Linked DNA regions of Homo sapiens: region 1 is linked to region 2. Evidence: fine-mapped expression QTL. A gene starts in region 2. The other region holds a variant in brackets. All regions are shown on one strand. Distances are between the middles of the regions.

The links. PIP is the estimated chance that this variant, and not a neighbour inherited with it, causes the effect.
Region 1: its variant is fine-mapped to the expression of PDHB in spinal cord (GTEx, PIP above 0.99). The same link has a PIP of 0.9 or more in cerebellum, pituitary, substantia nigra and tibial artery.

The regions. Positions count from the first base shown.
Region 1 is chr3:58,391,762-58,397,142 of GRCh38, reverse strand. PXK (PX domain containing serine/threonine kinase like) reads right to left here. Exons shown (of 18, transcript NM_017771.5): 7 at 5,296-5,370; 8 at 2,041-2,145; 9 at 1,384-1,485; 10 at 1-104. Among named protein-coding and RNA genes, the nearest start is that of PDHB, 39 kb to the left of the region's middle. The variant T/A (reference allele first, on the strand shown) is at 2,405.
Region 2 is chr3:58,431,595-58,436,975 of GRCh38, reverse strand. PDHB (pyruvate dehydrogenase E1 subunit beta) reads left to right here and starts at 3,144. Exons shown (of 10, transcript NM_000925.4): 1 at 3,144-3,208; 2 at 3,292-3,345; 3 at 4,992-5,099; 4 at 5,183-5,245; 5 at 5,348-5,381. The coding sequence starts at 3,167. LOC107986092 (a long non-coding RNA gene) reads right to left here and starts at 3,381. Exons shown (of 4, transcript XR_007095933.1): 1 at 2,734-3,381. RefSeq lists enhancers at 1,517-2,126, 3,169-3,388 and a silencer at 2,869-3,108.

The sequences.
Region 1 (5,381 bases), 40 kb after region 2:
GAATTCTCAAGGTCCAGCAGCCGGCAAGTGTCCCCATCGAGCATCACATTGGAGGCGTGAAGATGCCCATAAGGGAATCCCTTGTCATGAAGAAACTTCAGTACCTATCAAAACATATGGGAAAGTTACATTTTCCCCAAACTCATTCAGATATAAGACAAGTTAAACTTTGTTTTTTAGTCAATATATTTTGAAACAAAACCAAACAGGTCACTGAGAAGATTCCTGAAGAAAAATGCCACCTCTACCCATTTGTTTGGAAAAGGAAGTGAAGCTGAATGCTTTCCAGTTTTGAGGCTGTGAGATGCAACATCAGTTCTTTCTTTCCTCAAAAGAATAGAGAAGCAGCCTGCATATGCTTGGAATTAATAACTCTGATGCCAAAAGGCTCTGCTTTAAGCACTTTCTGATTCCAATAGGCCAGCTCTCTTCAGGGCAAAGTCTTGATCCTCCTGCATAGATGAGTGAAGCTATCTTATCAGTGCTTCTGCCAGTAATTCAGAAAAAGGGGTTGAACTAGAAAACATCTCTAGTTCAGTCTCTCCTCCAAATATATTTAGCTGTTTATTAATAGGAACACACAACAGGATCCCAGAAAAAGCAGTAAATATTTCCGCTGCCATATAAATAATCAGTGGCTTACCCAGTAAGAGAGATGCTTAGATATAGCCCTGCAATGTCCTGGTGAACTAGAGCAGTGATAGGCAAGTGGGGTGCCCAGAGCAATTCACTAAGGACTAGAAGAAAATATTACAACTTCTCTTCATAGTTGTTGTTTTTTAAAAATGTTATTTTTTTAACTTATAATATACAAAATATATTACTAGTATGCTGTCTCCATCCAAACAAATATAATATATATACACACATACACATATATGTATGTGCATAGTACACGCATATAATTTATAGTTAAATAGACATAACATTGGGATATTAAATTGGTTATTACTGATAAGGTTGCATAATCCCAGAAGCTTGGAGAATCCTGATCTAGAGGGTGATGTCGGAAAGCCTTCTCACTGTTGGTTATACTTCTGTAAGGGAGCCATATGGCTATGCATATGACATAACAAAATCAAAAACCTTGGCATGGGGATAAAGAGCAACCAAAGATAATATAAAAGTTGGTATCCACACAGTAAAGTTCTTAAAACTCAGACACTAAATTGCAATAGCTAAAGCTTTAAGAATTTTGTAGACATAAGTGACTGTTGCCTTAGTCTCAAATATTTACTTTTTGAGGCAAAATATGACAATGCAATCAGTTTATAAGTAATCAGACAACTTAAGTAATTTTGGATATTACTTAAGAACTTTTCCAGGTGAATAATGCAATTTTGGATGAAATCTGAATGCAACTTAAACAAAAGTACCTCTTACCTCTAATATTTGCCGTCCATATGTTTTTATTTGCTGGAGTTCCAGGCCCTGAATCTTCTTAGGGTTGCAGTACTTCTTTAGAAATGGGTCTTTTGGTTTTGCCTTTGGAAAAGAACAAAGAACACGTAAGAAAGCAGCAGAGGGGCCAATATCTGCACACAGACTCCCTGACCAGGCAGGATTCTACAGAGGCTAGGGGCGCCAGAGATGGCCAGCTGCAAGATGTGAGTTTTTAAAATACGACAGTCTGCATTGTTGATAGAAAGAGGCTGACCCAGGTTCCATCCCTTCTCTAGCCCAGTGAAGATGTGCCTGGTCTTGCCCTTAGCAGACCCCAAAGTCTTGCATATTGTTCGAATTCTTCAGAACTGCTTTGTTAAGCGCAAAACACAAACTTAAAAACTGACCTAAGAGAACAGCTTGCCATGTAATGGACATAATTATTAAATGTTCAACCTTTCCTCACATGGGAAAAGGAATGCTCTTTAACCAAACTAAGTAGAGTTTTTATTGCATGAATAAAAATAAATTCCAAATAAAATCAAAACTAACATCAAATCCTCAGGGCCTAGCCTCTGGAGTCTTAGAGACTAAGTATCAATAACAGGTTCTAAAGGAACTTGAGAATTCCTTATGACCATGAACTTGCACAGGTACCTTGTAGATCAGATCCTTCAATGTTCCCTTTTCGTTAAACATCCTAATTAGCAACGCTGAGGATTCATTAGCTGTGGCAAAGGTAACCCGATAGATGTAAGGGTGCTGTCAAAACAAAAAAGAAATTCACATTGATTTGCGTCAGGATCTAGGTCCTTTTAAATACAGGATCTGGTTATGCAGAGTCAAGTAGCACTGTGGTGGTTTAATTGCATACGAATGTAGTGATATTCCCTGAACACATGGCATTTTCAAGTTATTCAGTTACCAGCTAGTTCCTCCTTCTTCAGATGGAGGAAGGGACATAAACTGTAGGAACAAAGGAAAACAGGAGACAGATAATGGATGTGGTAAACTCCACAAG[T/A]GAAGGGGTCCTCTTTGGTGTGTGCACTCTCATAGCTCAGGCAAAAGTGTGGTGGAAGAGATAAAATGTCTGAGTTTTGAGGATAATAGTGTTAATATCCTGTCTCTGTAAGTCAGTAAAGAATACAGCCAAATCTCAGAACAGCCAAATGGAGACCAGGATCAATGTGTCTTTGCTCACAGCTTTGCCTAACATTCCACACTGCTGTTTGGGTGCCAAGCCAAGAAGCATACTAGCCAGAAAACAGGCAAAAGTAGCATCTTCTGGAATCTCAGCCCTTTCCACAGTAGCTGGCATGAATCTTCCTACCCTTCTATAGAATTCTGCAACATAAAGATTCACAGTGTCCTCCTCAGATGGAGAAACTGACATTAAGCAACTGGGGTGGAGAAAAGACAAATTATTTAATGAGTGAAAGGAAAGTGCTGTTTTTCCCTGGAATTCTGGTTACGTGAAACAAACTGGGTCCAGACAGGTATTACAATGTTCACTAGCTCAAAGGAGTATCATGAAAATTTAAACCCATGGGAGCTGAGCTATGCAGGGATTTTGGAGGCTGGCATGCAGCAGGTTGGGGGGTGGAAAGGTGTACCCAGGAAAACAGAGTAATTGATCATGAAGTTCTCCTGATCATCACATCAAAATGGTTGCTGCTGACTTTTTAACAGCTTTGTTGAGATATAATTCACATGCCATTACTATTCACACATTTAAACTGTACAAGTCAATGATTTTCAGTATATTCAGTTATACAACCATCATACAATCTAATTATAGAACATTTTCATCACCCCAAAAAGAAACACAATGGGTAGAATAAAAATCCTTGAGTACATACTAATATAAATTTTTTTAAAAGGGAGAAGAGAAGCTCTTTAGAGTAGAATGCCAACTAATAAGTAAATACGGAAGGAATAATAGAGTTAGAAAATCACATTAAATGTTAAAATGCTAGTGGGCTTCATAAAGAACAGAATATGTAGTGTCACAATATCTCCTTACACATTGGTTATTAATTATAGGTATTTACCTTAAGAAATTAAGTATGGGTATAATGTTTAGCAAAAATTGTTCATTATGGCTTTTTTCTTTTTTAAAAAATAAGAGCAAAAAGCTGGAGGTGATCTAAATGTCAATAGAAGATTGAGTAAACTAAGGTATAGCCAATGATAATTCTATACAGCCCATAATAATGATGCTATATTTACTAACAACTAAAGATGCTCATGGTACACCATTAATGAAAAAAAAATCAGGTTTTAAAGCACTACATATATAATTTACTTTTTTATCATAAAAATTCTTAAAAAGTAACAACTGAATATTTTGGTTCATACTTCTGTTTGACTGGGATTACTGGTGAGTTTTCTTTTCTTTTCTTTCTTTTTTTTTGAGACGGAGTCTGCTCTGTTGCCCAGGCTGGAGTGCAGTGGCACGATCTCGGCTCACTGCAAGCTCCGCCTCCCGGGTTCACGCCATTCTCCTGCCTCAGCCTTCCTAGTAGCTGGGACCACAGGTGCCCACCACCACGTCCAGCTAATTTTTTCTATTTTTAGTAGAGACAGGGTTTCACCATGTTAGCCAGGATGGTTTCGATCTCCTGACCTTGTGATCCATCCGCCTCAGCCTCCCAAAGTGCTGGGATTACAGGCATGAGCCACCACACTCGGCTTATTTTCTTATTTTTGCTTATCTGCCTTCTGACTTTGCTACAATTAATATGCACCATTTTTATGTGCTTCTTTTTTTAAAGAAGCACTTCTATTAAAAGAAATTTAGGGCCGGGTGCGGTGGCTCACACCTGTCATCCCAGCACTTTGGGAAGTCGAGGCAGGCGGATCATGAGGTCAGGAGTTCAAGATCTGCCCGGCCAACATGGTGAAACCCCATCTCTACTAAAAATACAAAAATTAGCTGGGTGTGGTGGCATGCACCTGTAATCCCAGCTACTTGGGAGGCTGAGGCAGGAGAATCGCCTGAACCCAGGAGGTGGAGGTTGCAGTGAGCCGAGATCGCACCACTGCATTCCAGCCTGGGTGACAAAGAGAGACTCCACCTTGAAAAAAAAAAAAAAGAAATTTAGAACTAGGTCCTGACAGCCTATGTCACACAACCAATCAAGCTCTAAGACTAAAGCGTCTTTTTGGCCTCACATTGCACCTCATTAATAGCTTGGTTTGCAAGCTTGACAAGACACTATATGGCCAAAAATAAACTTGCCAAACCAAGTGCACAAGTCAGTGTAATTGTGTTCAGTTCGCTAGTGATTCATTCCAGGGAACTACATCTTCATGCAGACAAGATAAAGAATGTCAATGTTAACTCAATTTCCTGGCCAGATTAGTCTTTGCTGAAGACATTCTGCACATATTTTGAAATATATCAACGTGGTTCTTTGCACTGAAGGCCCTGGATTAGAGCTGTGTAGTCGTGTAAATAATATCATGTATTCCTAAAGGTCATCTGGTTAGCCTGTGAAGGTAGTAACTCAGACAGAAAAATGGCTATTTTGCCTTTTCTTCACCCAGCTTATCTAAATTCCTCATTAGTTCTGTTTTCTCAGGCTGGAAAGAGTATCTTTCAGTTCCACTGAGATAAATACCTTCACCAAGAACAACAGGCTGGGAGAAGTAGCTGCTTCCCTACTCTCATCTTTGTTTAAAATTCAAAGTCTGTATTTAAATTACTATGTTTCATGGGTTGTGCAGATGTCATGAATGCCATTTCAAATAGCCTATGATCTAAGAGATTAGCCCTACACAATTTCAGTCTGACCTGAAATCCACTGTATCTCCCCATTCTGTTTTCCAGCTTTTCTGTCCATGTTCACCCAGAAAAAATACTGTGACTCTATCATCAGCACTGAGAATAAAAGAAAGACGTATACTCACCAAACAAGAAGGCAGAAGTTTGATTAGACACTGAAAATCTTTATCTGACAAATACTTGTCTGGGCCAAGGTCAGCCTGAAAACATG
Region 2 (5,381 bases):
AATACTTATTAATCTTCCAGATATCACCTTTTGTCAGAACTTGGAGTTATGAATGGCCCTCACTATACTGATGTTTTCTGAGCTCCTCTCTACTCTGAACATAAGGGACCCTAATAGTTAAGCAGGAATATCATCACCCCTATTCAGCCTGAAGAAGTTACAGAAGATGCATCTTCATCCCTCCGAAACTTTTAGGATTAAAGTTTCTCTCATAATAGGGAGGAGGCAAATGTCAGAGGAATGTGAACCAGAGCAACTCCATCTTGAATAGGAGCTGGGTAAAATGAGGCAGAGACCTACAGGGCTGCATTCCCAGACAGTTAGGCATTCTCAGTCACAGGATGAGATAGGAGGTCAGCACAAGATACAGGTCATAAAGACCTTGCTGATAAAACAGGTTGCAGGAAAGAAGCTGGCCAAAACCCACCAAAACCAAGACGGCGATGAGCATGACCTCTGGTCATCCTCACTGCTACACTCCCACCAGCGCCATGACAGTTTATAAATGCCACGGCAATGTCAAGAAGTTACCCTATATGGTCTAAAAAGGGGAGGCATGAATAATCCACCCCTTGTTTAGTATAAAATCAAGAAATAATCATAAAAATGGGCAATCAGCAGCCCTCAGGGCTGCTCTGTCTATAGAGTAGCCATTCTTTTATTGCTTTACTTTCTTAATAAACTTGCTTTTGCTTTGCACTGTGGACTTGCCCTGAATTCTTTCTTGTGTGAGATCCAAGAACTCTCTCTTGGGATCTCGATCGGGACTGCTTTCCTGTAACATCTCCTTTTGCTTGGCAAATCTGATCCTGAAATCTTTTGGTGCTAGGTTGTGGGAAAGGTGGGAAGGACTGATTCACTTTTTCATTCTGAGCACCACCCACAAACTTTTGGGGGCTGAAATCTCAAGTTCAGGAGTTTCTCAGGGATGCTGTGGCAGTCTAGGAAGTGCTGGCCATTCCTGAGGCCCTGGCAGGGACAGTTGGGACTAGACGATGGTGGCAGGTGAGGGAGACTCAGAAGGTGTTGATTCCATATCTTGAAGATCTTCTATCCATTTTACAGATGAAACAGTCCCAGAGAGTAAATGTCATCTCTATGCAGCTGTCCCCAAATTTCTACCTTTAGCCCTGACTAGGCCCTAGGCTCCAGGCAACCTGGGTATGTCCCAGTCATCTAAAGAATAAAGGCTGGCTGCAGTGGCTCATGCCTGTAATCCCAGCACTTTGGGAGGCTGAGGCGGGTGGATCACTTGAGGTCAAGAGTTCAACATCAGCCTGGTCAACATAGTGAAAACTCATCTCTACTAAAAATAAAAAAAATTAGCCGGGCATGGTGGCAGGTGCCTGTAATCCCAGCTACTCGGGAGGCTGAAGCAGGGGAATAGCTTGAACCTGGGAGGCAGAGGTTGCAGTGAGGCCCACTGCACTTCAGCCTGGGTGACAGAGTGAAACTCCATCTCAAAAAATAAACAAAAATACACTCTTACTTCCCCAGCTCCTGGCACTTACACTGCCCCAGGCTCCTCCCTTACCCCATCTATCCATCCAGCAATGACAAAAATCCAAAATTTTCCTCTGCTCTTCCCTAGCACTTACAGCATTCCTATTGATTCTAGCCCAAATAGATCTCAAAACTGTCCCCCTCCTCTCCATCTGGAAGTTGCCTCCTAGTCTGCCTCTGTTGCTGCCACAGACTTCCCAGCATCCGCCTGTTCTGCCTTTGCCTCCACCCCCTCCCATTCCCAGTCAGCAACCTACTGGAAGTTGCAAATTCCTAATTTGGCAGCCTGCAGCTGTGATCCATAGAAGGGAATGTTTGGAATGTCTTGGGGATGGGTGGAGACTGGGTGCTCAATTGTCCCATCTGACCCCCAAGGGCCAAATTAAGACTAATGAGCTTCCAGAGGTTGTCCCTATGGCCAAGTGTTTGGCACCTCCCCATAAGGGAGGAGACCACCCCTCATATTGTCTTATGCCCAATTTCTGCCTCCAAAGAAAGAAAAAGTAAAAACTAAAAGGCAGAAATGAAATCCACAAACAGACAGCCTGGTGCCACACCCTGGGCCTGGTAAAGATCGACCCCGACCTAATCGGTTATGTTAACTATAGATTACAGACATTGTATAGAAAAGCACTGTGAAAATCCCTATCCTGTTCCAGTCTAATTACCGGTGCTTGCAGCCCCTAGTCACATACCCCCTGCTTGCTCAATCAATCATGACCCTCTCACGCACACCTCCTTAGAGCTGTGAGCCCTTAAAAGGGACAGGAATTGCCCATTCAGGGAGCTCGGCTCTTGAGACAAGAGTCTTGCCCATGCCCCTGGCCGAATAAACCCCTTCCTTCTTTAACTCGGTGTCTGAGGAGTTTCGTCTGCGGCTTGTCCTGCTACATCCATAGGGCCGCCCTTCTCTAAAGTTGTTGTAACCTTCCCCCAAGCAGGAATCCACTTCTGCTTTAGGAAGCAGTGGGAAAAAGACCATGCTTTAGAGTCAAGACAGTCCTAAATTAAAATATCGGCTCATTTAATCAATTTCTGCTTCAGTTTAACCGTCTTCAAAATGGAGATAATAATAACACTAATTACCCAAGTGGGGTACTGTGAGAATGAGCTATACAGCACATATCTCAATGCTTGGCTCACAGTAGGTGCTTAATGCAATCAATGAAAGCTATGATGTGCATTATAAGGAATCAACAGACAGCACTGTCCAGGGAAGACTAGACTCACTCATGAAGTGTTAAGTTCCCCATCAGTAGAGCGTGTGCAAGCACTTCTTGGTGCCCAAAGGATTCCAGCACCCACAACAGGTTGGCCTAACTCTTAAGGTCTCTCCAGCTTCCAGAGATCATGCTCCTCAGGGTCTGACTTCTAGTCCCCACGCTTCAAGTAACACCGACCAGGCACGTGTGCCCAGCGTGCACCCCGCCTGTCGGTCACCGCCTACTGTCAATAAAGTTGATTTGAGGCGGCTCCAGGCAGAGGGGCACGGCCACCCACACGCCACCTCAGCCCGGCCCCGCGGCCCCTCACCCGGTGGGCGGGTGGGCGGGTCACGCAGCCGGCGCGCCTTGCCATTGGCCCGCGCCGGTGGAGGCGGGGCCTGCTCACGTCTGCCGGCCCCTCTGTTGTCGTTTGGCAGCGGATAGAGGACACGACCAAGATGGCGGCGGTGTCTGGCTTGGTGCGGAGACCCCTTCGGGAGGTAGGCAGCAGCGCGCGGCCTGTATTCCCACGCGACCCCTGCCCACCCTGCGTCCCGCCGTCATCTTCCTCTCTCCCTGCCAGGTCTCCGGGCTGCTGAAGAGGCGCTTTCACTGGACCGCGCCGGCTGCGCTGCAGGTAACAGGCGCGGGTGCTCGTCGGACGAGGGCGGGGAGGGTCCCCCCTTCTCTCGGGAAGGAGGCCGGAGTCGCGCCTGCGCTGTGGCCTTCCGGCGCCGTGGGCCTTGGGTTTGCGGAGCCAGCATCCTCCGTGGAGCTCCTGCTGCCTCTGTCGCCGCCTGGCAATTAGCACACCGGCGAGTCACCACCTCACAGCTGGCTGGGCAATGGGGGAAAACTAAGACTAGGCGTTTCCTCCCTCACTCCATGTTTTTTTCTTTAAATTGCAGCAAAATAGACCTAACTTAAAATGTACTTTTTAGAAGTGTATAATTCAGTGGCATTAAGTACATTCACCATGTTGTACAACCATTAACCACCATCCATTTCCAGAACTTTTTAATCATCCCAAGCAGAAACTGTCCATTACTCGGTAACTCCTCATTTCCCTTCCCCAAACCCCTGGTAACCCCTGTTGTACTTTTCTGTCTTTATGAGGTTGCCTATTCTAGAACTTCTTATAAGTGGCATCATTTGTCCTTTTGTGTCTGGCTTATCTCAGCGTAATGTCCTCAAGGTTCATCCATGTTGTAGCATGCGTCAGAGTTTGATTCTTTCCTAAGGCTGAATAATATATATATGTATATTTTTTTGAGATAGTCTCCCTCTGTCACCCAGGTTGGAGTGCAGTGGCGCGATCTCAGCTCACTGCAACCTCCACCTCCTGGGCTCAAGGGATTCTCGCGCCTCACACTCCTGAGTAGCTGTGATTAGATGCCGGTGCCACCACACCGGGCTAATTTTTGTATTTTTAGTACAGACAGGGTCTCACCATATTGCCCAGGCTGGTCTTGAACTCCTGGCCTCAAGTGATCTGCCTGCCTTGGCCTCCCAAAGTGCTAGGATTACAGGCATGAGCCACCTCGCTCAGCCCGACATTTTCTTTTTTTTTTTTGAGACGGAGTTTTGCTCTTGCTGCCCAGGCTAGAGTGCAGTGGCACTATCTCAGCTCACTGCAATCTCTGCCTCCTGGGTTCAAGCAATTCTGCCTCAGCCTCCCGAGTAGCTGGGATTACAGGCACCCGCCACCACACCCGGCCAATTTTTGTATTTTTAGTAGAGAATGGGTTTCACCATGTTGGCCAGGGTGGTCTCGAACTCCTGACCTCAAGTGATCCACCTGCCTTGGCCTCCCAGAGTGCTGGAATTACAGGTGTGAGCCACCGTGCCTGGCCTTGTTTTGTCTATTGTGAGTAATGCTGCTGTGAACATTGATGTGCAAGTATATGCTTGAATCCCTGCTTTCAATTATTTGGGGCATATACATAGAAGTGGAATTGATGGATTGTATGTTAATTCTCCTCTCCTTCCTTTTTTTAACTAGATTTTACCATTCATTATATTAAAAGAGCAACTCCTACATTCTGGATGCAAAGTATTTGGCAGTACTTGGCACCTAGTGAGCACTCAGTACATTAACACATGCAAAGACCAACTATGTGTAATAGAAATGTTACTTTTAGAATTCTTTGAGTTTTTAGAGAGAAGCTTGTTCTAGTGTTTTTATATTGTATGCTGTGGGCAGCCTAGGTAAATATAAAGGAAGAAAATCTTAGTTGAATCCCAAACAATTCTGTATTGACTGTTTTTGCATACCTGTGACAGGTGACAGTTCGTGATGCTATAAATCAGGGTATGGATGAGGAGCTGGAAAGAGATGAGAAGGTATTTCTGCTTGGAGAAGAAGTTGCCCAGTATGATGGGGCATACAAGGTAACTAAAATATATGAAAGTTATACAAAATTGAGGTCACTGTTACCCCCAGATACACTTAAGGGATCAACTCTTAATTGTAGGTTAGTCGAGGGCTGTGGAAGAAATATGGAGACAAGAGGATTATTGACACTCCCATATCAGAGGTAAGCCTTCCAGTGGGAAGCAGACCCTGGAGGGCATGTCTGTTAGTGTCCATTATCCTCATTTTTATGGATTTTCACTTATGTTTATATTTTACTTTATAGATGGGCTTTGCTGGAATTGCTGTAGGTGCAGCTA